Homo sapiens: one gene and its partners. The protein of the gene in region 1 purifies or fractionates together with the protein of each later gene. This does not show direct contact. Each region holds a gene or a part of one and is shown in the gene's direction. Other genes may lie near its edges.

What was found.
Region 2: the proteins of DEFB109B (region 1) and CEMIP2 purify together in Homo sapiens (affinity purification with mass spectrometry; one large-scale study listed by BioGRID and IntAct). This does not show direct contact.
Region 3: the proteins of DEFB109B (region 1) and CHST10 purify together in Homo sapiens (affinity purification with mass spectrometry; one large-scale study listed by BioGRID and IntAct). This does not show direct contact.
Region 4: the proteins of DEFB109B (region 1) and COL6A2 purify together in Homo sapiens (affinity purification with mass spectrometry; one large-scale study listed by BioGRID and IntAct). This does not show direct contact.
Region 5: the proteins of DEFB109B (region 1) and SEC62 purify together in Homo sapiens (affinity purification with mass spectrometry; one large-scale study listed by BioGRID and IntAct). This does not show direct contact.
Region 6: the proteins of DEFB109B (region 1) and ARSK purify together in Homo sapiens (affinity purification with mass spectrometry; one large-scale study listed by BioGRID and IntAct). This does not show direct contact.
Region 7: the proteins of DEFB109B (region 1) and TCTN1 purify together in Homo sapiens (affinity purification with mass spectrometry; one large-scale study listed by BioGRID and IntAct). This does not show direct contact.

The regions. Positions count from the first base shown.
Region 1 is NC_000008.11:7,311,540-7,315,521, forward strand, and holds the start of DEFB109B (beta-defensin 109B precursor), read left to right. Parts: upstream 1-1,182; 5' UTR 1,183-1,306; coding exon 1,307-1,364; intron 1,365-3,982. UniProt on the Homo sapiens protein: Has antibacterial activity.
Region 2 is NC_000009.12:71,748,014-71,751,513, reverse strand, and holds part of CEMIP2 (cell surface hyaluronidase CEMIP2), read left to right. Parts: intron 1-1,128; 5' UTR 1,129-1,140; coding exon 1,141-1,471; intron 1,472-3,500. UniProt on the Homo sapiens protein: Cell surface hyaluronidase that mediates the initial cleavage of extracellular high-molecular-weight hyaluronan into intermediate-size hyaluronan of approximately 10-5 kDa fragments.
Region 3 is NC_000002.12:100,400,669-100,404,168, reverse strand, and holds part of CHST10 (carbohydrate sulfotransferase 10), read left to right. Parts: intron 1-1,513; coding exon 1,514-1,605; intron 1,606-3,500. UniProt on the Homo sapiens protein: Catalyzes the transfer of sulfate from 3'-phosphoadenylyl sulfate (PAPS) to position 3 of terminal glucuronic acid of both protein- and lipid-linked oligosaccharides.
Region 4 is NC_000021.9:46,101,112-46,104,611, forward strand, and holds part of COL6A2 (collagen alpha-2(VI) chain isoform 2C2 precursor), read left to right. Parts: intron 1-3,500. UniProt on the Homo sapiens protein: Collagen VI acts as a cell-binding protein.
Region 5 is NC_000003.12:169,987,307-169,990,806, forward strand, and holds part of SEC62 (translocation protein SEC62), read left to right. Parts: intron 1-933; coding exon 934-1,053; intron 1,054-3,500. UniProt on the Homo sapiens protein: Mediates post-translational transport of precursor polypeptides across endoplasmic reticulum (ER). Proposed to act as a targeting receptor for small presecretory proteins containing short and apolar signal peptides.
Region 6 is NC_000005.10:95,565,101-95,568,600, forward strand, and holds part of ARSK (arylsulfatase K precursor), read left to right. Parts: intron 1-897; coding exon 898-1,027; intron 1,028-2,789; coding exon 2,790-2,949; intron 2,950-3,500. UniProt on the Homo sapiens protein: Catalyzes the hydrolysis of pseudosubstrates such as p-nitrocatechol sulfate and p-nitrophenyl sulfate. Catalyzes the hydrolysis of the 2-sulfate groups of the 2-O-sulfo-D-glucuronate residues of chondroitin sulfate, heparin and heparitin sulfate.
Region 7 is NC_000012.12:110,624,129-110,627,628, forward strand, and holds part of TCTN1 (tectonic-1 isoform 1 precursor), read left to right. Parts: intron 1-2,233; coding exon 2,234-2,364; intron 2,365-3,500. UniProt on the Homo sapiens protein: Component of the tectonic-like complex, a complex localized at the transition zone of primary cilia and acting as a barrier that prevents diffusion of transmembrane proteins between the cilia and plasma membranes.

The DNA.
Region 1 (3,982 bases):
TGTCCTTAGGTAGACACTGCAGCAGAACTGTAAAGTTTTTCTGGAAGTCTGGGGAAGAGAGGAGGAAACAGAGAAGGGGCAAGAGGAGAAAATAGAATGAGGCTCAGAATACCAAGCCTTAGTGCTGTCCCTATCGCCTTCCTCGCTAGATCACTGGGTGATCCTGGGCAAGTTTCTTCCTTTCCCTCAGCTTATTTCCTCATCTGTAATGTAAGTGACTAGACAAGATAGCCTATGATGTTCATTGTAACTCTAACTTTTCCTTCCCAAAGCAAATAGCTGGAAAAGACACTGTGCTTACAATATGCAACAAATAAAAACAAAAGATTTTTAAAAACCCCTAGTGTAACTTGAATTCTTACAAATAAGCAATGGTACATCATAATTTTACAAAGCTCTTTTGTGATTTCATTTTTAAAATCAAGTCAAGTTTTATTTTACTTCATAATAAGATAATGGAGATAAGTGTTAAATGGGTTCATGAAGGAATGTTTGTAAAAGATGCAATAATCCAAAATAGGTAATTGTTATATTAGTAGTTCCCTTTACTTGGGTGGGGGGGGGGAACAGATAGAAGAGTGTTAGGAAAAGCTTCATAAAGTGGATTATATAGAATGTGCTTTAAAAGAGTTTGGTGTTTTACTGAGTGGGGAAAGAGCAATATGGGGAGTTATTGTTCAAGGGTTAAAGCTATAAAAAATGAATCAATTACAGAGATAGGCTCCAAACCATAGTACTTATAGTTAACAATAAGGTATTTTGTATTTAACAATTTGTTAAGAGGGTCGATCTTAGGGGTTCTGACAACAACAACAACCACAACAAAGGGACGTAGGAAACATTTGGAGGTGATGGATATATTATTACCTGGATATTGGTGTGGTAACAAGATAATACTTATGTGCAAACTTGCCAAACTATATCCATTAATTATGTACTTTTTGTGTATAACAATTTTACTTCAGTTCCTACTATATTGCCTGGCAAACAATAGATGTATAAAGTGAGATCAATGATTATTGCATATGCATGTCAAAAATAATAAAGAAAGCAGGTGACAATAAAGACATCCTGAATCTTTGGGAAATAAATAGCATTCACCTGCTTTCTCATCCATTGAGATATCACCACCTTTATGTACTTATGTGTCCCTGGAAGTTTCCCGTGGGAGATTTAGTTATTCTCTTTTCGTTAGGCTCTACTGACCAAGAACAAATCACAGACTCAGAGAGCATCATAAAAAGGCCTAGACCCACGATGCCCAGAGACTCCAGGCTCAACCCACATTGATGCTGGCCCTTCAGCCATGAGACTCCATTTGCTTCTCCTTATTCTCCTTCTTTTTTCAATTCTCTTATCCCCAGGTAAGTTGGTAGCTCATTACTATAAGGTTCTGCAGATGAGAATGCTATATCCCTGGCCAGACAAGAACCTAGAATCAGTCCTGTGGGTTCAAGAACCTAATATTTACAGCTTCACTAGGATTATAATAGGGAAAAATAGAAAAGAGACTCATTTAGCAGTATGTCCTCTTGATAAGATTCCATCCATGTCTTTTGACCTAGTGAGTGGATATAATAATGGATGCTGCTGAAATTCAATCCTGTCAGATGAAACTGCCTACATGTAAATTTCCATGCCCCACCAAGCACCTCAAGATACAAAGTAAGGATACAACAGAACATGACCTCAATGAGATGCCTTTGCGGGACATGGAAATTTATATGCAGGCAGTTAGATCTGACAGGATTGAATTTCGGTGGCATCTATTATTATATTCACTTAATAGGTCAAAAGAGATGGATGGTATCCTATCAATAGGAGCTACTCTAAATGGGTGTTGACAAATCTGAAGGTTTTATTCGAAGAAACAGAAAAACTATAATCCTAGAATAAATGAAAATTATATGAGAGACTTTTCAAAATAAATTATGTTTTATGTGGTTATGAATAAAAAATGATTTTCAAAGTGCAACTGAAGAGTAGAAAGGAGAGTTAAAGGAACTTCAGACAAGTGAATTAATAAGGAGCAAAGACACCAACAAGTGCTGCTCAAGGTATATTACAGGTAACCACACAGAAATGGGTAACATAACTTTCAATACAAAAATGGCTAAAATTTACTGGGCTAAGCATGCATTTTGGGGGCTTTTGGAAAAAAAAAACAGCATAATAAACCTAAAGAAGATAAAGGGAAAATTATAAATACAAAATATAAATTAATGAAACAAATGAGAAAAAACAGTATTTTAAAAAATGTTTTTCAAAAAGTCTAATACACTTTATAATAACCTGGCAACACTGAACAAGAGAAAATGAGAACATGCTTAAAATAACTATTGCAGGAATGAAAGGTTAATATCAAAACAGATGTTTCAGAGATTCAAATAATTTTTAAATTTGTGTATATTCCGTCTTCACTGTGTACTTGGGGATTTTCCTGTTGCAGTTCACTATATCATGACTGTGTCATCAATTTTGATGCTAGTAAATTATTACCATCAGCATACAAATATGCTGTTGTTTTTCTGATCTAAGAAAAAGAATTTCCTTGCTTTTCTTCTGATGCCAGCTGTCCTCCCCTTTTTTGCTCTACTTTTCAGCAAAACATCTTAGAATAGTTGTCCATATTCTCTGTCTTCAATTCCTCTCCTCTCATTGTTTCTTAAATATATCCCAATCAAGCTCTCATTGTTTCTTAAATATATCCCAATCAGGCTCTCTCCCCCTTTTTCGATCATGCTATTGACACCACTTTTGTCAAAGTTATGAATAATCTCCACATTGCTAGATCCAATGATCATTTTTCACTACAACTTTAATCGACCTATTAGCAGCATTTGACACAAATAATCACTTCCTTCTTCACAGTATACTTTCTTCATTTGGCTTCCAGGACGGCTCATTCACTTGATTCTCAGCCTGTCTCACTGGAGCTACCACTTCGGCTTCCTTTGTTTCTTCCTCATCTTTTGCTTCACACCTCCTACAGGAGAGCTCCAGAGCTCAGTTCCTGGTCCTCTTCTCTTCTCCCTCACCACACACTCTTTGGAGGGGCTCAGCAAGTCTCATCCCTTTCAATTCTCCTTTTGGACCTCCTTTTGAACTCCAGGCTTATAATAAATTATCCAACTGCATAACTGGTATATCTACTTGGACACTTGATTTCAAAAGTAATATATATCCAAAACCAGACTCACGATTTTCCCTCAGAAACCTCTACATACACATTTTTTCTCTTCTTGCAGAGTGCCATGGTCAGCATTGGAGCCTCTCTTAGCTTTCCTGTCCACTTTCATCCTCAGCAAGCCTCTATCTCTGCACCTCAAGAATCTCTCAGGGCTCCCATCCCTTGCCCAACCTCGGGCAGTAGCTGCCACACACTCAGTGAAAGACCAGAGAAACTACTTCTCTCAGCTACCGGCCCTGCCCTGCCTTCAGACCTCATCATGCCTCTCTTCTTATGCACCTGTGAGAACAGAGAGTGAAGGGGGGATTCTCTCAGCTCCCCAACCCACTCCCCAGTAACACAGGGTTTTCCTCGATTCTCACAGTGAGACCTTTACCTTGCTCTGACCTCAAATTGCACCAGTTCCTACATGCCTGTCCCTCAAAAGTGTCTCAGGTAGTTCTCCTGCTCTCCATCTGATCTTACCTAGGAGCACACAAGATAGGTCATGAAAAAACCATTAGTGGGGCCACACGCGGTGGCTCACGCCTGTAATCCCAGCACTTTGGGAGGCCGAGGCCGGCAGATCACGAGGTCAGTGGCTAACACGGTGAAACCCTTTCTCTACTAAATACAAAAAATTAGCCGGGTGCGGTGGTACATGCCTTTAGTCCCAGCTACTCGGGAGGCTGAGGCAGGACAATCACTTGAACCCTGGAGGCGGAGGTTGCGGTGAGCCGAGATCGTGCCATTGCACTCTAGCCTGGGCGACAGAGTGAGACTCCGTCAAAAAAAAAAAAAAAAAGAAGAAGA
Region 2 (3,500 bases), on another chromosome or scaffold:
TTCATGAGAATCACTTGGGGAGCATTTAAAAGCTGCAAATACTTAGATCCCAGGGACAGCAATCCTGATTGAATTGTTTAGCCGTGGTGCCCTGAGCATTCACCTTAGCGGGTGATTACACTATGCAGCCAGGGTTGAGAAGGAGTGACATTAGAACACAAGTAATGAAGGTGATTGTCAACATGGTTTATTAGATCAGGGATGTAAGCTGACTTGATATTTTCAAGAAGTCATTATGATGGTTACCAGGGGCTGGGAAAAATGGAGAGTTACTTAATGGATATAGAGTTTTTGTTTGGGATGATGAAAAAGTTCTGAAAATGGATAGTGGTGATGGTCACACAACTTTGTGAATGTACGTAATGCCATTGAATTGTACGCTTAACATAGTTAAAATGTAAGTTTATGGTATATTTAACACAATTTAAAAAGTACTTTAAAAAAACCATTTATGATTCATACATTCCAGCTGGATACTGGGGCTCACGCCTGTAATCCCAGCACTTTGCAAGGCTGAGGTGGAAGAATCACTTGAGCTCCGGAGTTTGAGACCAGCCTAGGCAATATAGCAGGATCCCATCTCTACAAAAAATTTAAAAATTAGCCAATCATCGTGGGATGTACCTGTAGTCCTGGCTACCCGGGAGGCTCAGGCAGGAGGATTGCTTGAGCCCAGGAGTGCGAGACTGTAGTGATCTATGATCATGCCACTGCACTTCAGTCTGGGCAACAGAGTGAGACCCTGTCTCTAAAAAATAGAAATTAAAGGCGAGTTGCGGTGGCTCACACCTGTAATCCCAGCACTTTGGGAGGCTGAGGTGGGTGGATCACCTGAGGTTGGGAGTTCGAGACCAGCCTAACCTACATGGAGAAACATTGTCTCTACTTAAAAAAAAAAAAAAAAATTAGCTGGGCGTGGTGGTGCATGCCTCTAATCCCAGCTACTCGGGAGGCTGAGGCAGGAGAATCACTTGAACCTGGGAGGCAGAGGTGGCGGTGAGCCGAGATCATGCCATTGCACTCCAGTGTGGGCAACAAGAGTGAAACTCCATCTCATAAATAAATAAATAAAAGAAATTAAAAAAGAATTTACACATACTGAAGCTTAATTTTTTTTTCTTTTCACAGTAACAGTGTATCATGTATGCCACTGATTCCAGGGGACACTCCCCTGCTTTCCTCCAACCTCAGAATGGAAATAGTCGTCACCCATCTGGCTATGTTCCAGGGAAGGTTGTCCCATTGCGTCCCCCTCCTCCTCCAAAGAGTCAAGCTTCAGCCAAATTTACCTCCATCAGACGAGAAGACCGGGCAACCTTCGCATTCTCACCTGAAGAACAGCAAGCCCAGAGAGAAAGTCAAAAGCAAAAGAGACACAAAAATACTTTCATTTGTTTTGCTATTACTAGTTTCTCATTTTTTATTGCACTTGCAATCATTTTAGGAATATCCTCAAAATATGCTCCAGATGGTAAGTGTGTGTATATGCACATAGAACATATTCTAGAAGACAAAAGAGGAGGAAATAGTAGAATACTTAAAAAAAAATTTATCTTAAGTTGGCCCTAGCTAACTAATATGTAGTTAGGTAATACGAGGTGTCACTTCTTATGAATGAGAGCAATTGTTCAATAATCTGTTGGAAATGATTAAATGGTTGCTCTTCCTGTCCATTGTGCCACTTTGTTGCAGCACTCAGGGAGGTCTTGGAGTACCTCTTTTGGAAATGCTTTGAGGGCCTTCACTAAATTCTTATGGTAGGTATGATTTTTGGACTGCTGCAATTTTTTTTTTCTTTTTTTCTTTTTTTGAGGCAGTCTTGCTCTGTTGTCCTGGCTGGAGTGCAGTGGTGTGTTCTTGGCTCACTGTAACCTCCGCCCCCTGGGTTCAAATGATTCTCATGCCTCAGCCTCCTGAGTAGCTGGGACTACAGGCAAGTGCCACCACATCTGGCTAATTTTTGTATTTTTAGTAGAGACAGGGTTTCACCATGTTGGCCAGGCTGGTCTCGAACTCCTGACCTCAGGTGATCTGCCTGTCTTGGCCTCCCAAAGTGCTGGGATTACAGGTGTGAGCCACCATGCCCGGCCGCAAGTTTTTTTTTTTTTAGTCATACGTATAGTGAACTATATTAGATTTTTTTGTTTAAGTAAGTGACTAAAAATAATAATATTTGTGTTTGTGGCTTGAAATGGGCTTGGGAAGCAGTTCCAAAGGAAAAGTTTCAAATATTTTTGAGTAACAATATATATCCTGGAAGGGAAGCATCCTTTAGGATATATAAGTTCTGACACCTTTGTCTAAAAATCAGTCATTACTTCATAGTTAAATATTATGCAGGGAGATTTTAATTTCTTAAATGGTATTTTCTTTTCAAGTTAATGATATATCAATATTTTGAAAAGTTTTGAAGAAGATGGTTGCAAGTCAGCCTTATTGGAATACCAACAAAGAATTGCCTCATAAAAGAATACCATCCATCTGTCTAAAATCAAAGGACTCGGGGCTGTGAAGAGAGAAGACTCTAACAGCCTGGACTGGGTACCATATTTGTCTACAACAGATTTTTGTCAAGTTAAATGCTTCCTTAAGTGGCTGTAACAGTTCAGAGGCATTTTACTACTTATAAGACTTACAAATACTTTATTATTTAGTTTTCTTGGGTGCTTTCAAGGGATTTTTAAAATTTTAAGGTTCTGGGAGAGGTAGTGCTAGTACTTCTAAGAAAATAAACCTCAAATGAGAGAGACATGCACATTAATATCCTTATGGACCAAACAAGTAGACCACATTATGAACTTATAACATTGATTTCCATTGCATGCGGTATGACTTCCTCTCTCCTTTTCCCAGCAGAATAACCAAGTTCTCTGTGCTGATTCATAATAACCAAGTTCACTGTGCTGATTCATACTTCCCAACTCTTCTGCAGTAAAGGGATGCTAGACCAGTGGGAAATCAGAGCTGAAGTCTATGGCTTTGATTGGTGTTTTCATATTCCATCTAAAACAGGGCATTGCTGATATGGTTCCTTGAACCAACATTCTTTAGTTTCACATTTTGGCAGTGTAAAGTGCAGATCATCAGTGGAAAGATCTGGTATGCTGAAATATTTCAGGGTCAGCTTGACTGTGGTTATTGCTGTTACATAACTTTGATAATATACTCACTGCTCTTCAAGTGGGTAGCTGGGAAGGTGGGGTTGGCTGAGCTACTTTTCAGTGCTTTGTACAGACTACACATTTTCTCATTAAGTGCATTTTACTGGAAGGAAACAGACTGGAATTTTTGGTGATGGTTCTAATGAACCATGCTCTCCTGGGAAATAATTAAAAACAATTAAGAGAAATTATATAATCATTGAAGTAGGCTCCAGATCTCAAAAGACTGGATTTCCTTCTTTATAGCTGGGTACAGTGCTTGTTATAAAACTATGGAGAATTTCAGCTAGATGTTGTATGGGAAGAGGGAGGTAGAAAAGTTAAGGAATCCTCATTATT
Region 3 (3,500 bases), on another chromosome or scaffold:
CTCACTCGCGTGAGATGTTACCTAATTGTCCCAAGGGACCTGGTTAGGTTAGGATCCTGAAGGTGGATATCCGCCAGCTGAGTTCTGGATGCAGGATGCGAGCTGGCACCCAGCATCTTGCCAGTGCACAAGGACGCTGGGCTGAAGCATCAAGAGCATTTACACTCAGAGCCTGCCCCTGCAGGCGTCAGAGAGGCCCTGGGCTGGGGTGGTGTAGGCCTCTCCCCTGGAGCCTGCCCTTCCAGCACTGTGCTTTAGAGAGTGTGTCCCGGAGCCTGGATCTTGGGCAGCACAGGAACCCCTCTAAGCTCGTGGCCATAAAGGGCTTCTCACATGTTGGAGTTTATTTCACACACGTTCACGGTGTTTTTGATTATGAACCAGAAGCCCATTGTGAAGTGTCAAGACCAGGAAATAACAGACACGGCAGTGTCCACGGTGGGGAGTTCCATTTCCTGGAAAGTGCGTGGAGAAGCCTTGGCCTCAGTGCTCCCGGGCTGCTCCTTTCAGCTCTGTCCTCTGGGACAGGGCCAGCCTCAGAACCCCCATCAGTGGTGTGCATGTTCTTCTCACCTACCTGCCTTTCCCGGTTTCTCCTGCCACTGGAGCCCCTAGGAAGAGCATGGTTGTCGTGAGTTGCTGTTTAAAGCAACACTTACTTTTTTTAGTGTTACAGTTTCTGTTCAGCTCAGCAGTGGAGCCAGTGATATTTGTGGCAATGATTTATCCTCAGTTAGCAAATTTCAGTATCATATTGAACTAGGATCAGGTGTTGTAACTAGACTTTCTCATAAGAAAATAAATCCCCCTCAGCGAAGGGAATGTGATGGAATCATATGGCAAGACTCAAAATGATGCCCTTGTGGACCTGGTTTGTGTTTGTAGGCGCTGGTTTTTCCTCTCCTGGTTGACTTCCTCATTGGTTCTGAGCCGCTTGAGGGCAGAGCCTGTGATGTGAAGGTCTCTGCAGCCTTGACCATCTTTGCATGTACTTATTTGCCATCTGCGGATACTCTCCAGTGAAATGTCTGGGTGTATCGTACCTATTTTCTAATTAGATTGGTTGGTTTTTTAATTGTTGAGTTTGAGGATTCTTTATATATTTTAGATAGGAGTCCTTGGTCAGATAAGTGGTTCATAAATATTTTTTCCCTATCTGGAGCTTGTCTTTTCCTCCTCTTCAAATGGGCTTTCACAGTGTAGATTTTCTCTTTGGTTGTTTTTTAAAAAGATTGATGGTTTTATGTTTCACATTCAGGTCTGTGATCCACTTTGAGTTCATTGTTGAATAAGGGGTGAGGTTTGGATCAAGGTTTGTTCCGTGTGTGAATGTCCAGGTGCCCCAGCACCATTTGTTGGACAGACTGCCCTCCTCCGCTGAATGGCTTTTATGGCTTTGTCAAAAGGCATTTGGGCATCTTTGAGAGCTTCTATTTCTGGGGCCTCTGTTCTGTCCCATCCACCTGTGTGCCTTTTCCTTTTAGAGAAGACATTCAACCTCTCTGTCTTCCAGTGTACAGTGCCAAACAGGAGTTTCTGTTCCTGACAACCATGCCGGAAGTGAGGAAGTTGCCAGAAGAGAAGCACATTCCTGAGGAACTGAAGGTGGGCACAGCCAGGCCGTGGTCCTTGTCCTCTTGAACACGGCACCCTTGTCGCGGGGAGCTGGCCTTCCCCTGTGGCTGGTTCCGCTTGTCATCACGTCTGCGTTAGAGCCTTTTCCTGTGTTACTTCTCCATGTTAGTTCACCTTGTTAATTTCCATTTGGGAGAGGCACAGGTCACGTCTATTTTTGTGCCCCTCACAGAGCTCTGTGCATCAGGGCTGCTCTGTCACTGTTGGTTGTGCAGCATTCCTGACCAGCTGAACATGAGCCTTGCCTGGGGAGCCGAGAGTATTGGGCAGGGTCAGGAGGAAACCAGAAGTGGGAGAAGACATCTCACCCAGTCATGGGGTTTTAGAGTGAAAGGGGGCCCTGGACAGCAGAACAACTAATTCAGCCTCCAAATTGTATGGATGAGAGAACTGAGCCTAGAAAAAAGGTGGATCCTCCACAGTCCCATGGAGTTCCTGGCGGAGCCCAAGGCTGCTGACTTCCACCCAGCCCTTGCTGGCTTGACATTCTGGCTCCATGGCTCTCTGCAGGCTTCTTGTGCACCTAAATTCCTGATCATTCCCTAGCTGGGATGAGGGGTGCACTCTGGAAGGCCTCTCACTTCGTAACCCCCATTCTGGATCTAGAGGGTTGAAGTTGCAATTGTTCCAGAAGGAATGAAATGGGTACAGCGAGCCCTAAAAATATTTTTAGCCCAGAATCAAGCCGTAGAGGTTGGGACAGCTCCTATCCATGGGTCACAGTGTAAGGATGATAAATTAGAACTCAATAAACATAGAAAACATACACCAGTCAGTAGAGTGCTGCTGGAGGTTACTTCTCGTAGGACATTGATGGAATGGAGGCCAAGTTTACAGAACTCTGAGACAGCCTAAATGTTGCTTTTAGGTTGAGGCATCCCAGGGTAAGAAAATAATTTGGATGGGGTACAGAAACGAAACCAAAAAATCTTATGGGAAATAGGAGAGTGGCTTTAATAGGATGGATTTAATAGGAAATCAAAGTTACATGGATAAAAACAAAGGTAGGGTAAGCCTTTGGCAAAGTGTCGCAACAAGGTTCCCTCAAGGATGCCATACCCTGTGAGGAAGAGGGTGGTCATCTTGGTGCTCCCTCTCCGGGTGGAGGGTGCTCCCGGAGAGATTGCCAGCCTGCAGGAGTCATTGCAAATAAAAAGACTGCGCCTGAATGTGCTTTACAGTTTGCAGTGTACTTTACTGGGTTTCAATCTCATTGGTCTTCCGAGCCGCCCTCTGAGGTATATTTTTATTCTGTTTGCATTTGGGAAACATGAGGCTCAAGGAACTGTGCTCACTGGGTCAGTATCCCCTGGACAGCAAGTTGTGGGCCTGGGCTTTGAACTCAGTGTCCTCTGTGCCCCTCTCTTACCCGCTGCCCCAGTCATTCTCATGAGACTCAGATGGGAGGTGAGGGAAGTGGGGGATGTCAGAGGTGATGTCCGCTGAGGCCACATGCCGTTAGGTGACACCAAAACTCAGCATGTGTCTTCTCACAAGAAAGGGGATTTATCAACATGATCAGATTCTGTAGCTCACCTTTAAAAGTTTATTTTGGCCAGGTGCGGTGCCTCACTCCTGTTATCCCAGCACTTTGGGAGGCCGAGGCGGGCAGATCACCTGAGGTCAGGAGTTCAAGACCAGCCTGGCTAACATGGTGAAACCCCATTTCTACTAAAAAATACAAAAAAATAGCCAGGTGTGGTGGCATGTGCCTGTAATCCCAGCTACTCGGGAGGCTGAGGCAGGAGAATCTCTTGAACCCAGGAAGCGGAGGTTGCAGTGAGCTGAGATCGTGCCATTGCACTCCAGCTTGGGCAACAAGAGCGAAACTCGGTCTCAGAAAAAAAGTTTACTTTGTGCATGGT
Region 4 (3,500 bases), on another chromosome or scaffold:
TGAGGTGGTATCTCACTGTGGTTTTGACTTGCATTTCCCTCATGATTAGTGACGTTGAGCATCTTTTCATGTGCTTGTTGGCCATTTATATATCTCTTGGGAGAAATATCTGTTTAAGTCCTTGACCTATTTTTGAATCAAGTTGATTGTTTTTTGTTGTTGAATTTTAGGAGTTCTCTGTATATTCTGGATATTAATCCCTTATTAGATACACAGTTTACAGATATTTTCTCTCATTCTCTGGGTTCTTTTTACTCTGTTAATGATGTCCTTTCACTAGATAGATGCAAAAAATGTTTTTAAATTTTGGTGTAATCTGATTTATCTATTTTTTCTTATTGTCATACCCAAGAAATCATTGCTCAGTCCCATGTCACGAAGGTGTTACCTTATGTTTTCTTCTAAGGGTTTTAAAGTTTTAGGTCTTAAAACGTAAAGATCCATTTTGAGTTAATTTTTGTATATGGTATTAGGTAAGGGTCTAACTTCATTCTTTTGCATGTGGATATCTAGTTGTCTCTGCACCGTTTGTTGAAAAGACTGTCTTTATCGAATGGTCTTGACGGCTTGATTGAAAGTCATATATGCAAGGGTTTCTTTCTGGACTCTCTGTTTTATTCTGTTGGTCTGTATGTCTGTCTTTATGCCAGTGCCACACTGTTGATGACTGCAGCTTTGTAGTAAGTTTTGAAATTAGGACATGTGAGTCCCCCAGCTTTGTTCTTATCTTTCACGATTTTTTTTTTTTTTTTTTTTTTTTTTTTGGCTATTCGAGGTCCCTTGAGATTCCATCTAAATTTTAGGATTTATTCACTATTTCTGAAAAAAAAAACAATCACTGGGATTTTTATAGGGATTACATTAAACCTCTAGATCAATTTGGGTGGTATTGACATCTTAATATAGTAAGTCTTCCAATCTATGAACATGAATGTCTTTTTTTAAATGTCCTCTTCAATTTCTTTCAGAAATGTTTTGTAGTTCTCATTGTACAGGTCTTTCACCTCCTAAGTCAATTTTTAAGTATTTTATTATTTTTGATACTATAGTAAATAGAATTGTTTTCTTAATTTCCTTTGGATTGTTCATTGTTAGTGAATAGAAATACAAGTGATTTTTATGTGTTTACTATGTATTCTGCTATTTTGCTGAATTTGTTTATTAGTTGTAACAGTTTTTGTGGAATTTTTAGGGTTTTCTACATACAAGATCATATCATCAGTGATCAGAGATAATTTACTTATTTCTTTCCAATTTGAATGCCTTTAATTTCTTTTTCTTGCCCAATTGCTCTGGCCAGAACTTCCAGTACAGTGTTAAATAGAAGTAGTGAAAGCAGGCATCCTTCCTTTATTTCTGACCTTAGAGGAAAAGCTTTCAGTCTTTCACCACTGAGTATGATGTTCACTGTGGCTTTTTCGTATAATATGGCTTTTATTATGTTAAGGTTGTTTCCTTCTATTCCTAATTTGTTGAGTGTTTTTATCATGAAAGGGTATTGAATTTTGTCATATGGTTTCTCTGCATCAACTGCAATGATCATGTGTGAGTTTTTTTTCCTCCTTCATTCTGTTAATGTGTATTACATTGATTGATTTTTTTTTTTTTGTATGTTGAACTATCCTTGCACTCCAGAAATAAATCCTACTTGGTCAATTCATTAAATTCCATTTAATTGCATCAAATTATACCAAATTTAGTTTACTATTAATAGTATTTTGTTTAGGATTTTTGCATCAATGTTCATAAGGAAGACTGGATTGTAGTTTTCTTTTCTTGCAATATCTTTGTCTGGTATTGGTATCAGAGTAATGCTGGCCTCATAAGAATGAGTTAAATAGTGTTCCCTTCTCTTCAAGTTTTTTGAAAATTTTGGGAGGGTTTGGTGTTAGTTCTTTATGTGTTTGGTAGAATTCACCAGTGCAGCCATCAGGTCCAGAGGTTGTTTGTCAGGAGATTTTTGAGTATTGATTCAATCTCCTTACTAGTTATGTCTATTCAGATTTTCTATTTCTTCATGATTTGATTTTGTCTTGATAGGTTTTGTCTGTCTGGAAATTTTTCCATTCCATCTGTGTTATTCAAATTGTTGACATATAGTTGCTTATAGTACACTCTTATAATCTTTTTTATTTCTGTAGAATTAGTAGCAATGTTGCCACTTTCACTTATAATTTTAGTAATTTGAGTTTCTTCTTTTTTTCTTAGTCTAGAATCTAGCTTAAGGCTGGTCAATTCTGTTATCTTTTCAAAGAACCAACTTTTGTTGTCATTGATTTTCTCTATTATCTGTCTGTTCTCCATTTTGTTTATCTTTGCTCTGATCTTTATTTTTTCCTTCTTTCTGCTAGCTTGTTCTTTTTCTAGTTCCTTACATTGTAAGGTTAAGCTCCTATTTGAGACCTGTCTTTTTTAATATAAGCATGTATAGCCATCAGTTTCCCCCTTAGCACTGCTTTCACTGTCGAACAAGTTTTTAAATTTGTGTTTTCATTTTCACTCATCTCTAAGTATTTTATAATTTCCCTTGTGATTTCTTCTCTGATCCTTGGTTATTTAACAGGGTGTTGTTTAATTTCGTGATTTTTTAAATGTCCTTGTTGCTGATTTTTAACTTTACTCCTTTGTGGTCTGAAAAGATATCTTGTATGATGTAGATCTTTCAAAATCTATTGACACAGACTTTGTTGTTGCAACTAACCCCGTCATTGCAAGCCCTTCTCCGTCTGGTTGAAGTGACTTCCAGGAGATTTAAAGGGCTGGCACCCTTTTCTCCCTTCATTTTTCTCTTTTTCCTCTTTTGAGACGTAGACATTGAAGACTAGCACATTCAAAAGCAACCATATATGTGGAGAAAATAAAAAAGTCATTGCACATGCTCAGGGGAAGTCACGGGCTTAGAAAAGACCTAAGAAGACCTTAAGTTTATACTTTATGCTGATCCTTAGCACAGAGACAGCAACAATCAAAATTATAAAAACAAGAAAAACCAGCAAACTCTGGGGAAGAAAGAGATTTTGATTTCACAAGGCATACAAAGAAACTTTCCTATTTCAAAGGAAAAAAAAACAACAGAAACTGTCACTGAAAAAGACTTGGTGGTAGATCTACTAGACAAAGGCTTTGAAAGAACTATCTTAAAGATACTCAAATAACTAAGGGAAAATGTGGAGAAAGTGAAAGAAAATGTAGGAACAAATGAAAATATCAATAAAAAGCTAGAAATTTTAAAAAGAAACCAAAGGGAAATTCTGGAGCTGAAAAGTACAATAACTGAAATTTAAAATTCACTAGAGAAATGCAAAGGCAGATTTCAGCAGGCAGAATAAAGAATCAGGGAACTTGAAGATACAAAAATGGAAATTATTGAGTCTGAGGAGCAGAAATAAAAAGATTGAATAAAGGTGATCAGAGCCTAAGGGGTCTGTGGGATACCATCAAGCAAACCAACATAAACATTGTAGGAGCCCCAGAAGAAGAGAGAGCAAAGGGAGCAGAGA
Region 5 (3,500 bases), on another chromosome or scaffold:
TACTTAGAAGGCTGAGGTGGGAGGATCACCTAAGCTCAGGAGGTCGAGGCTGTCGTGAGCCAAGATCATGCCACTGTACTGCAGCCTGGGTGACAGAGTAAGACTCTGTTTCAGAAAACAAAAAGCAAAATAACTCTTTTATAATAAGAGTACTAGTCACTTTGCTAGATATTTTGCGTACAATATATCATTTCATCCTCACAACAACCTTTGAAGAATAGGAAGAGACTTATTAAATATAAGGTAACTTAGCCTCAAAAGAGTTAAGTAACTTGCCCAGGGTTACATAGCTTATAAGTGATGGAGCTAGAATTTTAATCCTGGTCTTATTCTAAAGACCTAATAACCAGGCTTCTAATTTCTTATAATTCTTTCTTGTGTCCCCACTTTACTTGCAAAAAAACTGGAGACACTTGTAAACAGTTTCCCTAAGCACCAAAAAATACATCTGTAGCAGAAATCACCTGGGGAATCTTTCAGTCTGTGGATGTCAGAGCTCCACCCCAGAAGAAGAATCTCCAGAGAGGGGTCTTGGAAATCATTTTTTGTTGGCTTTGTTGTTCTGTTGTTTCTTTTAGCTCCCTTACTTAGTAGGCAAATATCTTAGTATTTTTTAAATAAAGTAGATATAGCTTGAAAAAGGGGGCAGTTGATAAATTAAGGAGGCAACAGTTTTGAATTTCTACATAGCATTTTTTTCTAATTATATGTAATTTACACTAATAAAAACTAGTTTAAGAATAGTATAAAATGTTAGGTTGAACAATATGAAATTGCTCATAATTGACCATTTTTTACCTATAAAAATGGCAATTTTATATTTCACTGTGTTTATGTTTCTCAGTTTTTCCCCCAGGGATATGTTTCTGTTAGTGCAGCCATACCATTTAAGTTTTTATTCTAAAATTTAACTTTTGTCATTTCTTGTTCCAGTGATTGCAGTAATAGCGGCCACCCTCTTCCCCCTTTGGCCAGCAGAAATGAGAGTAGGTGTTTATTACCTCAGTGTGGGTGCAGGCTGTTTTGTAGCCAGTATTCTTCTCCTTGCTGTTGGTAAGTATTGTTATTATAAAATTGACCTCAAGAAGGTTGGTATTGAGCAGTTGGACTGTAATTTGGAGCTTCAGTAAAGCTTAAGAAAAATTAATGGAGGTAAATCAAGAAATATATGGTACTACTTTCTGAGTCAAATCTCAAAACTCAGGCTTGGTAAGATGTGTTCTGTCTGCAGAAAAAGGATTTAATACATCTTTAAAAAAATTTTTTAATAAGATTATTTTTTATTGACAGATCATAATTGTATACATTTATGGGGTACAATGTGATGTTTTGGTGTATGTGTACAATGTGGAATGTTTAAATCAAGCTAATTAACATAATTAGCATATTGATCACCTTTCTTGCCTATCATTTATTGTGAGACATTTGAAATTTACTTATTTTGAAATATACCATACATTATTATATCTTAATCTGCAAATAGATGTGCTTTAAAAATTAGTTATGGCAGAGGCGTTTAATATTTTTGCAGTGGTAGATCATTTATTAGACATAATACTTTCAGTAAAACATTTTTTAATTTTGACTTAGAACAAATGCAACATCTAAATAATCTATGCATATATTTAATAAATGATTCTAAACAATTGATTTGCCATTTTGGGAAAAATCAATAATTTTCACCCAAGTACCAAAATACTAGATGCAATAAGGAGTTAATGTTTTAAAAATCAAATAGGAAAACATAAGTAAATGAATTTTCCGCATTTCTGGATGATTGGGGTCTTTCATAGATTATTTGTTTAGAGGCAGGGTCTTGCTCTGTCACCCAAGCTGAAGTGCAGTGGTGAGATCATAGCTCACTGCAGCCTTGAATTCCTGGGCTTAAGCAATCCTCCTGCCTCAGCCTCCCAAGTAGCTAGGAGTACTGGTGCATTTCATCATGCCTGGCTTTTTGTGGGGGAGATAGGGTATCACTCTGCCCAGGCTAGTCTCGAACTCCTGACCTCAGGTGATCTGCCCTCCTTGGCCTCCCAAAGTGTTGGGATTACAGGCGTGAACCACCACGCCCAGCCTCCTTCCTCTGATTTGGTAACCTCTGGCAGCAGAAAAATCCCCTGCTGGTTTTGCATGGAACACGGGCACATTTGTAGGCCAAGAAACAATATCTAAGCCTGTTTGAATTTAGTGTCAGTGTAATACCTGCATCAAGAAGGAAAAGTCATAAACTTTGATCTGACATTAGACATAATAAAATTGGTGCTTTTTGCCTTTCAAATTCCTGAAATTTAGAAACTCCTTGGAAATTTTTAGCAAAGGTTTAGCTCCACTGAATAGAATTATTCTACTTGCTTATTTTTAAATTAAACCAGTGTTCACAATAGTTTATGGTTATTATGTAGTTTTGCTGTTTAAAATATTGTTTCTTCAGTAGTCTCTTTAAATAAATTTTCATTGTAAATATGCTGTGGATTTAAATATGCATTATGAACCAAATAGTCTTCTGAATTATACCAGGAAACAAACCCAACATTTTATTTTGATTCTCTTAGAAAATGCAATTCCAAATATACTTTCAAATAATTAGATATTTCTTTTATATTATTCTTTGAAGTCTTTATATATATTATGTATATCGCATATAATATATATCATGTATATTATATATGAATATATATGATATATAGATATATGATATATCATAATATTATATATCATATATATCATATAATATATATCATATGATATGTCATATATATTATATGATATCTCATATTTATATGAAATATATTTTTATATATATTCATTTTTTGGAGACAGGGTCTTGCTCTGTTGCCCAGGGTAAAGTACCATGGCAGAATCATAGCTCACTGTACCCTCAAACTCCTGGGCTCAAGCAGCCCTCCCACCTTAGCCTCCTGAATAGCTGGGACTATAGGAGCATGTTGCCATGCCTAGCTAATTTTTTTTTTTAAAGTCAGGGTCTTGAAATATTATGTATTGGTCACAATTATATCTGGTGTTTCTTTGAATATGCATTATTAATAATGCCATTTAAAATAAAACCTTTGGCAGTTTTCTAAAATCTGTCGCTTTTAGCATAGGAATGTTATTATAGTACATGTCACAGCTTCCCCATAATTCTTCCCTTTTCACTCTCGGTAATCTAGTGCCACATAGCGAAAAACTGTAAAACATGAACATTTTGCCATACCATTTGTATGTGATAAGAAATTAGGTTAGTGCCATTTCTATATTGCTTTTTCTTTGGTTTGATACAAGATTTCATATTATGAATCATCTGTCTTACAATCCTGTAAAACCTATCATTGCATCATAATTGGAGAAAAAAATGTACAGCCTCCTTAAATTCATTATCTCTGTTTATCAGTGGAATTTATTCTTAAATCATAATTTTAAGCATATTTACCTTTTCCGTTTATACCACGAAAGATTCTAATGTGTACAGGAGTCTTTCAGAATATTTATATTCTTGTGAA
Region 6 (3,500 bases), on another chromosome or scaffold:
ACATATAATAGATAGAACTCCAGGACTGGAACATTCTTTTTTCTGTTCTTGCTCTTTACCAACGTGAGTTCTTCAATTCCCAGTTCATCTCCAAAATGCATATCTCCAACCCAAACATCTCCTAATCTTCAGACTCACTTATCAAGCTGCCTAATTTTTTTTTGTAGAAACAGGGTCTCCCTGTGTTGCCCAGGCTGGTCTTGACCTCCTGAGCTCAAGCTATCCTCCCACCTCAGCCTCCCAAAGTGCTGGGATTATAGGCATGAGCCACCACACCCCACCCCAGCTGCCTAATTGATATCACCACTTCCATCTCACAGATATCTCAAACTTTGTATGTCCTTTAAATTCTTTGAATAGCTGGATCCTGTTCATTCTTTAGGTCTCATACATCCCAGAGAAGGCTTCCCTGTCCACACTGTCTAACGTAGGTCTCTCTTGTCCTTCTGTATCTCGGATTTTTTTCAAAGCACACGTCATAATTTGTAATTATTCATAGTTTATTTGCCAGTATACTTTTTGCCTCTCCCACTAGACTGTAAGCTTCATGGGGCCTAAGACTCTGTTTTATTCACCATTGCATCCTCAGATTTTGCAGTGTCTGGCACATAGTTAAGTATTCAATAAATACTTAGTCAGTTCATCATCCCCCAAAAGAACATTCCAGGAAGTCCTTTATTTACTGTAGTTAAATGAATCCAAGTGTAACGCTGCACTGAATTCTAGCTATTTATGTACCAGATACTGGAAACACCCTCTATACTTGTTTTGTTTTTATCTTTGGAGGATTCTTAAAATCATATTGAAGTCTTCTGCTATTGTAAATTTTATGGTTAAAGAAAATAATTTTCTTCTTTGGTAATGTAATCAATGCTAATTAAATTTCTTTATTTCCAGGATGGAAGGTTAACATTTCATCCAGGAAGTCAGGTAGTGAAACTTCCTTTTATCAACTTTATGAAGACACGTGGGACTTCCTTTCTGAATGCCTACACAAACTCTCCAATTTGTTGCCCATCACGCGCAGGTATGAACATCCTTAATATGAATGGGAGAAAGTGGCTACACACTGAAAATATATTCACAGTTTAAAAGATTATACCTAAAAGTAGAATAGTTGTATTTGGCCTCAATAAAATTGTTTTAATATAAAAGATGTGCATTTTAAGGTATATATTGGCTATTGGGGTTGTTCAAATTGTATTTTTCAAGAGTAGGAATTTTTATCATTTAGAAAGGTGTCTAGTTCATGTGTTACCGTTTTATTTCCTTGTGACTGGGGACTAAGAATCTTTTGGCCATCCAAGAAAATGAGGGAATACTCATATTTCCTAGAAGAGTTCTGTTTCCAGGGAAATTTTTCAGTAACGGTATAGGTAATTGGGAGGACTTCTATGAACATTAGAGTATACCATAAAGTAGTTACAACTTATATTCAGATTTACCTGAATTTTTTCTTATTATTTCAGATTACATACTTTACCTCTTTCTTTCCGTCTCAATTCACTTTTATCCCAAGTCAAATTGTTCACTTTTATTATAATAATTTAACAAATAGGCATAGTTTTATTGGCAGAATGTCAGTGACATTAAGCCATGAATAATTAACAAATAGGAAAAAACTGCCATTTTTATAAATTCTATCTATTGTCTGATGGTTGTTTTCCTTTTCCCCTGTCTTCTGGTTTATGTTTGTTGCCTTGGAACACATAAATGGCACTCAGTGATTTGGTTTGTCTGTAAATGAGATGATTTTCTCTGTGATTTGAGTTATAACTTCTTTCACCTATATTTTCAACACTAACAACTATATTATTACCAGTGATGAAAAGAAACTAAACTATATTGTAAATGATATTTCAATAATGAAGGACCAGGCATATTAAAAAACAGTTTTGTTAACTGTAAAGTAGAATGAGCAGTGGGCTAGGGTGAGACAATGACCTGGATGCTAATCCTCAAGCAAGTCACTCAGTCTTCTTATCTGCAAATTGCTGTGTATACTGTGTACCTCACAGGGTTGTTCTGAGCATCACATTAAATAACGAATGAGAAAGTGGCCAATGAACCCTAGATGTCTCAAAATGTTAGATGTTGTTTTTCCTGGAAGAAGTATATTTTGAAGAGTAAGCAAGGTCAAATAATTTGTCAAAGACCACTCAGTAACTGGTGTTATTGGGATTCAAACCCAGGTAATCCCCCATCCCACCTCTCAGAAAACATCTTGCTAGATGAAAACAGAAAGCTTATTCTAACTTTCTATTTATGTACACAGAAATGGGAAAAGGAAAAAAAGTGTTTATTGAATAAACAATCATAGTTGTAGAAAGTGAGAGATAAGGCATAACACACTACGTTTTTTGTGGAAAGCCAGCAAAAGGACAGGGAATAAGGGAAGATCCTTAAGGATGTTGGGGAAATGAGATCTGTACTTCAATTGTCTGATTTAGAAAATTAACCAATAAATACTTAGGGATTGTTTTTATGATTGAAAGAGGCCTCTAGTCACACATGCTTTGTATTTAATTCCAGCTGTATTTACCTTAAGTAACTTAAGCACTAAGCGTTAGTCAACTCATCTGTAAAATGGAAATAGTAACTCCCCACAGAGTATCACTCTGATAAAATGAGGTAACAATCAGAAATGTTTGGTAAGGCACCTAATCTGGGTACGTCTTACTGCAGAGCATAAGCTCTTCACTAGTGGACTGCTCTCTCAGAGTAATTGTCCTAATAGTTAAATTGTTAAGCTTTACCTTAATCCCAATTCCTTTTTTTTTTTTTCTCAGCAATGTGGAGTGGCCTCTTCACTCACTTAACAGAATCTTGGAATAATTTTAAGGGTCTAGATCCAAATTATACAACATGGATGGATGTCATGGAGAGGCATGGCTACCGAACACAGAAATTTGGGAAACTGGACTATACTTCAGGACATCACTCCATTAGGTAAAAATAAAACAAAAATAATCATCATGGACTGCCCTCTGCCATAGCGTGTACATGTACTCTTTTTGACTTTAATTTTTTTATTTTTCCACAAAGGTGAAAGTAAATCTCTTAATCCCTTCATTGTGTTAATTAGGCTGAAATTTTAGCTTTCTTTCATCTTCCTAAAACATTAAAATGGCTAATATACTAGTCATTTTGTTTTTCTTAAGCATTAAAGGTCTATAAATAGTGTTTGTAAACTCGTTTAGCCCACGCTTTATTTTCATTGAATTTCCTTTAATGGCTACTGTATTATTAATTTTAAAATCTGTTTTTAAAACCATAGCCTTCTTGCTGCTTTCGTTGGTCAGTTCTCTCTAACTTGAGTCTATTGTAACTTTTTTTTTTCTTTCATTTTACTAAGTCCTCAAAAACCAGGCAGCCAAGCATAGTGGTTAAGAGTAGAGGTCAAGAATCAGATTGCCTGCTTTTGAATTATAGTTTCTGTTTACTACTAGCATTGTAGTAGTCTGATCTTGGACACATTGTCTAAATGTTGACACTGTACT
Region 7 (3,500 bases), on another chromosome or scaffold:
CCAGGCTGGTCTTGAAATCCTGGCTTCAAGTGATCCTCCTGCCATGGCCTCCCAAAGTACTGGCATTGTAGGCGTGAGCCACTGTGCCCAGCCTCTATGTTTTTTTGAGATAGGTCTTGCTCTGTCACCCAGGCTGGAGTGCAGTGACACGATCATAGCTCACTGTAACCTTGCTCCTGGGCTCAAGCAGTCCTCCTACCTCAGCCTCCCAAGTAGTTAGTACTACAGGCATCTGCCAGCATGCCGGACTAATTTTTTCTTTGTTTTTTGTAGAGATAGGGGTCTGTGTTGCCCAGGCTGGTCTTGAACTCCTGGCCTCAAGTGATCCTCCTCAGCCTCCCAAAATGCTGGGATTACAGGCATGAGCCATGGTGCTTGGCCTGTATCTGTATCTATAGCAAATTGATTGGGATTTGTCAAATCTGGGATTGGTTGAAGACTTAACTCATAACTTCTTTTTTTTTTTTTTTTGGGAGAGAGAGTCTCACTCTGTCGCCCAGGCTGGAGTGCAGTGGCACGATCTTGGCTCACTGCAACCTCCCAGGTTCAAGCAATACTCCTGCCTCAGTCTCCCCAGCAGCTGGAACTACAGGCACATGCCACCACGCCTGGCTAATTTATTTTTGTATTTTTAGTAGAGACAGGGTTTCGCCATGTTGGCCAGGCTGGTCTTGAATGCCTGACCTGAGGTGATCCGCTCACCTCGGCCTCCCAAAGTGCTGGGATTACAGGCATGATCCACTGTGCCTGGTCCTGTACCATAACTTGTAAGCACTAAACCTTCCAGACGACTGATCTCAGGTGATCCACCCGCCTCGGCCTCCCAAAGTGCTGGGATTAGAGGCATGAGCCACTGTGCCTGGCCCTGTACCATAACTTCTAAGCATTAAACCTTCCAGATGACTCCACATTTTCTTACTCTCACAGTCCTTTGAAGACAGCTTTATTCTAAAGACAAGGAATTTGGATCTATTCTGGGTACTTTTAAACAATCTGAAGGTCTGCAAAATTTTATCTAATTGATGCTATCAGAGTTTGTAAAGTTCACTGACATAAAAATTATACCCTGATCTACGTTCTTGACAAGATTTCCTTAAAGGTTATTCTACTTGTCTCAATTTTGTTTTTTTCTGTTAGAGGAAAAAGTTTTAAATGCCAAGCTTTTTCTTTTTTAAAAAGAGATGAGGATCTCACTATGTTGCCAGACTGGCCTCGAACTCCTAACCTCAAGTGAGCCTTGCATCTTAACCTCCTGAGTAGTTGGTAATACAGGTGCATGCTACTGTGACTGGCCCAAATGCAAAATATTTCAACACAGAATAAACTAAATAAAAATGGATTCAGCCAGCTGTGGTGACTCATGCCCAGCACTTTGGGAGGCTGAGGCAGGTGGATCATCTGAGGTAAGGAGTTTGAGACCAGCCTGGCCAACATGGTGAAACCCTGTCTCTAATAAAAATACAAAAATTAGCCAGGCATGGCAGTGCACACCTGTAGTCCCAGCTACTCGGGAGGCTGAGGCAGGAGAATCACCTGAACCCAAGAGGCAGAGGTTGCAGTGACCCGAGATCGTGCCACTGCACTCCAGCCTGGGAGAGTGAGGCTACATCTCAAAAAAAAGGATTCAATTTTTTTTTTTTTTTTGAGATGGAGTCTCACTCTGTCACCAGGCTTGAGTGCAGTGGCGCGATCTCGGGTCACTGCAACCTCTGCCTCTTGGGTTCAAGCGATGTTCGTGCCTCAGCCTCCCTAGTAGCTGGGATTACAGGCACCCACCACCACGCCCAGCTAATTTTTGTATTTTTAGTGGAGATGGGGTTTTACCATCTTGGCCAGGCTGGTCCCCATCTCCTGACCTTGTGATCCGCCTACCTCGGCCTCCCAAAGTGCTGGGATTACAGGTGTGAGCCACCGTGCCCAGCCGGATTCAATTCTAATATGCTTTCTTTTTTCTTTCTTTCTTTCTTTTTTTTTTTGTGAGACAGAGTCTTGCTCTGTTGCCCAGGCTAGAGTGCAGTGGCGCGATCTTGGCTCACTGCCAGCTCTGCCTCCTGGGTTCATGCCATTCTCCCGCCTCAGCCTCCCAAGTAGCTGGGACGTCATGCTTTCATAAATATCCTCCACGTAACTGTTAACATAGTACAGTACAAGCATCTGACAGTTTTAAAATAATTTTGCTAAGATTGTGTGCTTATGTCTTGTAACTTTGTATTATTATTTTTTTAATTTTCAGGGGCGACAGCCAGTTTTGTAGTCAAAAAGCAGTCATCTATTCATTGAATTTTACAGCAAACCCACCTCAAAGAGTATTTGAACTTGTTGACCAGATTAATCCATCTATTTTCTGCATTCATATTACAAACTGTAAGTATTTGACATTGATATATTTTGTGAAGCTCTGGAAAATTTTTCTCAAAGTTATGGAAAAATGTGTCAGATTTATTTTATAATTATGATTATGGTTTTTTTGAGACAGAGTCTTGCTCTGTCACCCAGGCTGGCGTGCAGTGGCGCAATCTCGGCTCACTGAAACCTCCACCTCCCAGATTCAAGTGATTCTCCTGCCTCAGCCTACTGAGTAGCTGGGATTACAGGTGCCTGCCACCATGCCTGGATAATTTTTGTGTGTGCGTGGTTTTTTTTTTTTTTTTTTTTTTTTGAGACGGAGTTTCGCTCTTGTTGCCCAGGCTGGAGTGCAACGGCTCAATCTCGGCTCATCACAAATCCTCTGCCTCTTGGGTTCAAGTGAGTCTCCTGCCTCAGCCTCCCAAGTAGCTGGGATTACAGGCATGGGCCACCATGCCTGGCCAGTTTTGTATTTTTAGTAGAGACGGGGTTTCTCCATGTTGGTCAGGCTGGTCTTGAACTCCCGACCTCAGGTGATCCACCTGCCTTGGCCTCCCAACGTGCTGGGATTACAGGTGTGAGCCACTGTGCCCAGCCCTATTATTACTATTTTTTCTTTCTTTCTTTTTTTTTTTTTTTTTGAGGCAGAGTCTCACTCTGTTGCCCAGGTTGGAAAGCAGTGGCACGTTCTCAGCTCACTGCAACCTCTGCCTCCCGGGTTCAAGTGATTCTCCTGCCTCAGCCTCCCGAGTAGCTGAGATTACAGGTACCTGCCACCACACCCAGCTAATTTTTTATTTTTAGTAGAGACAGGGTTTCACCATGTTGGCGAGGCTGGTCTCAAACTCCTGACCTTAAATGATCCTCCTGCCTCGGCCTCTCAAAATGCCGAGATTACAGGTGTGAGCTGCCTTGTCCAGCCCTCAGTTAGATTTAAAGCAATTATTCTGTTTTGCTATATGTATAGTGTATATCTTTAGAGACCATTTCACAGGTAATAGGAAGTAACTTTATAGACCTGTGGGCATGCACATTTTCTTTAAAAGTAATTATGATTGTGTAGTTGTCTTTCGAAACCGTATACTTATCTTAAAAGTGTTTATAATATGCAGACATACATAGGAATCTAGGTTTCTATATATACATGTGTTTTT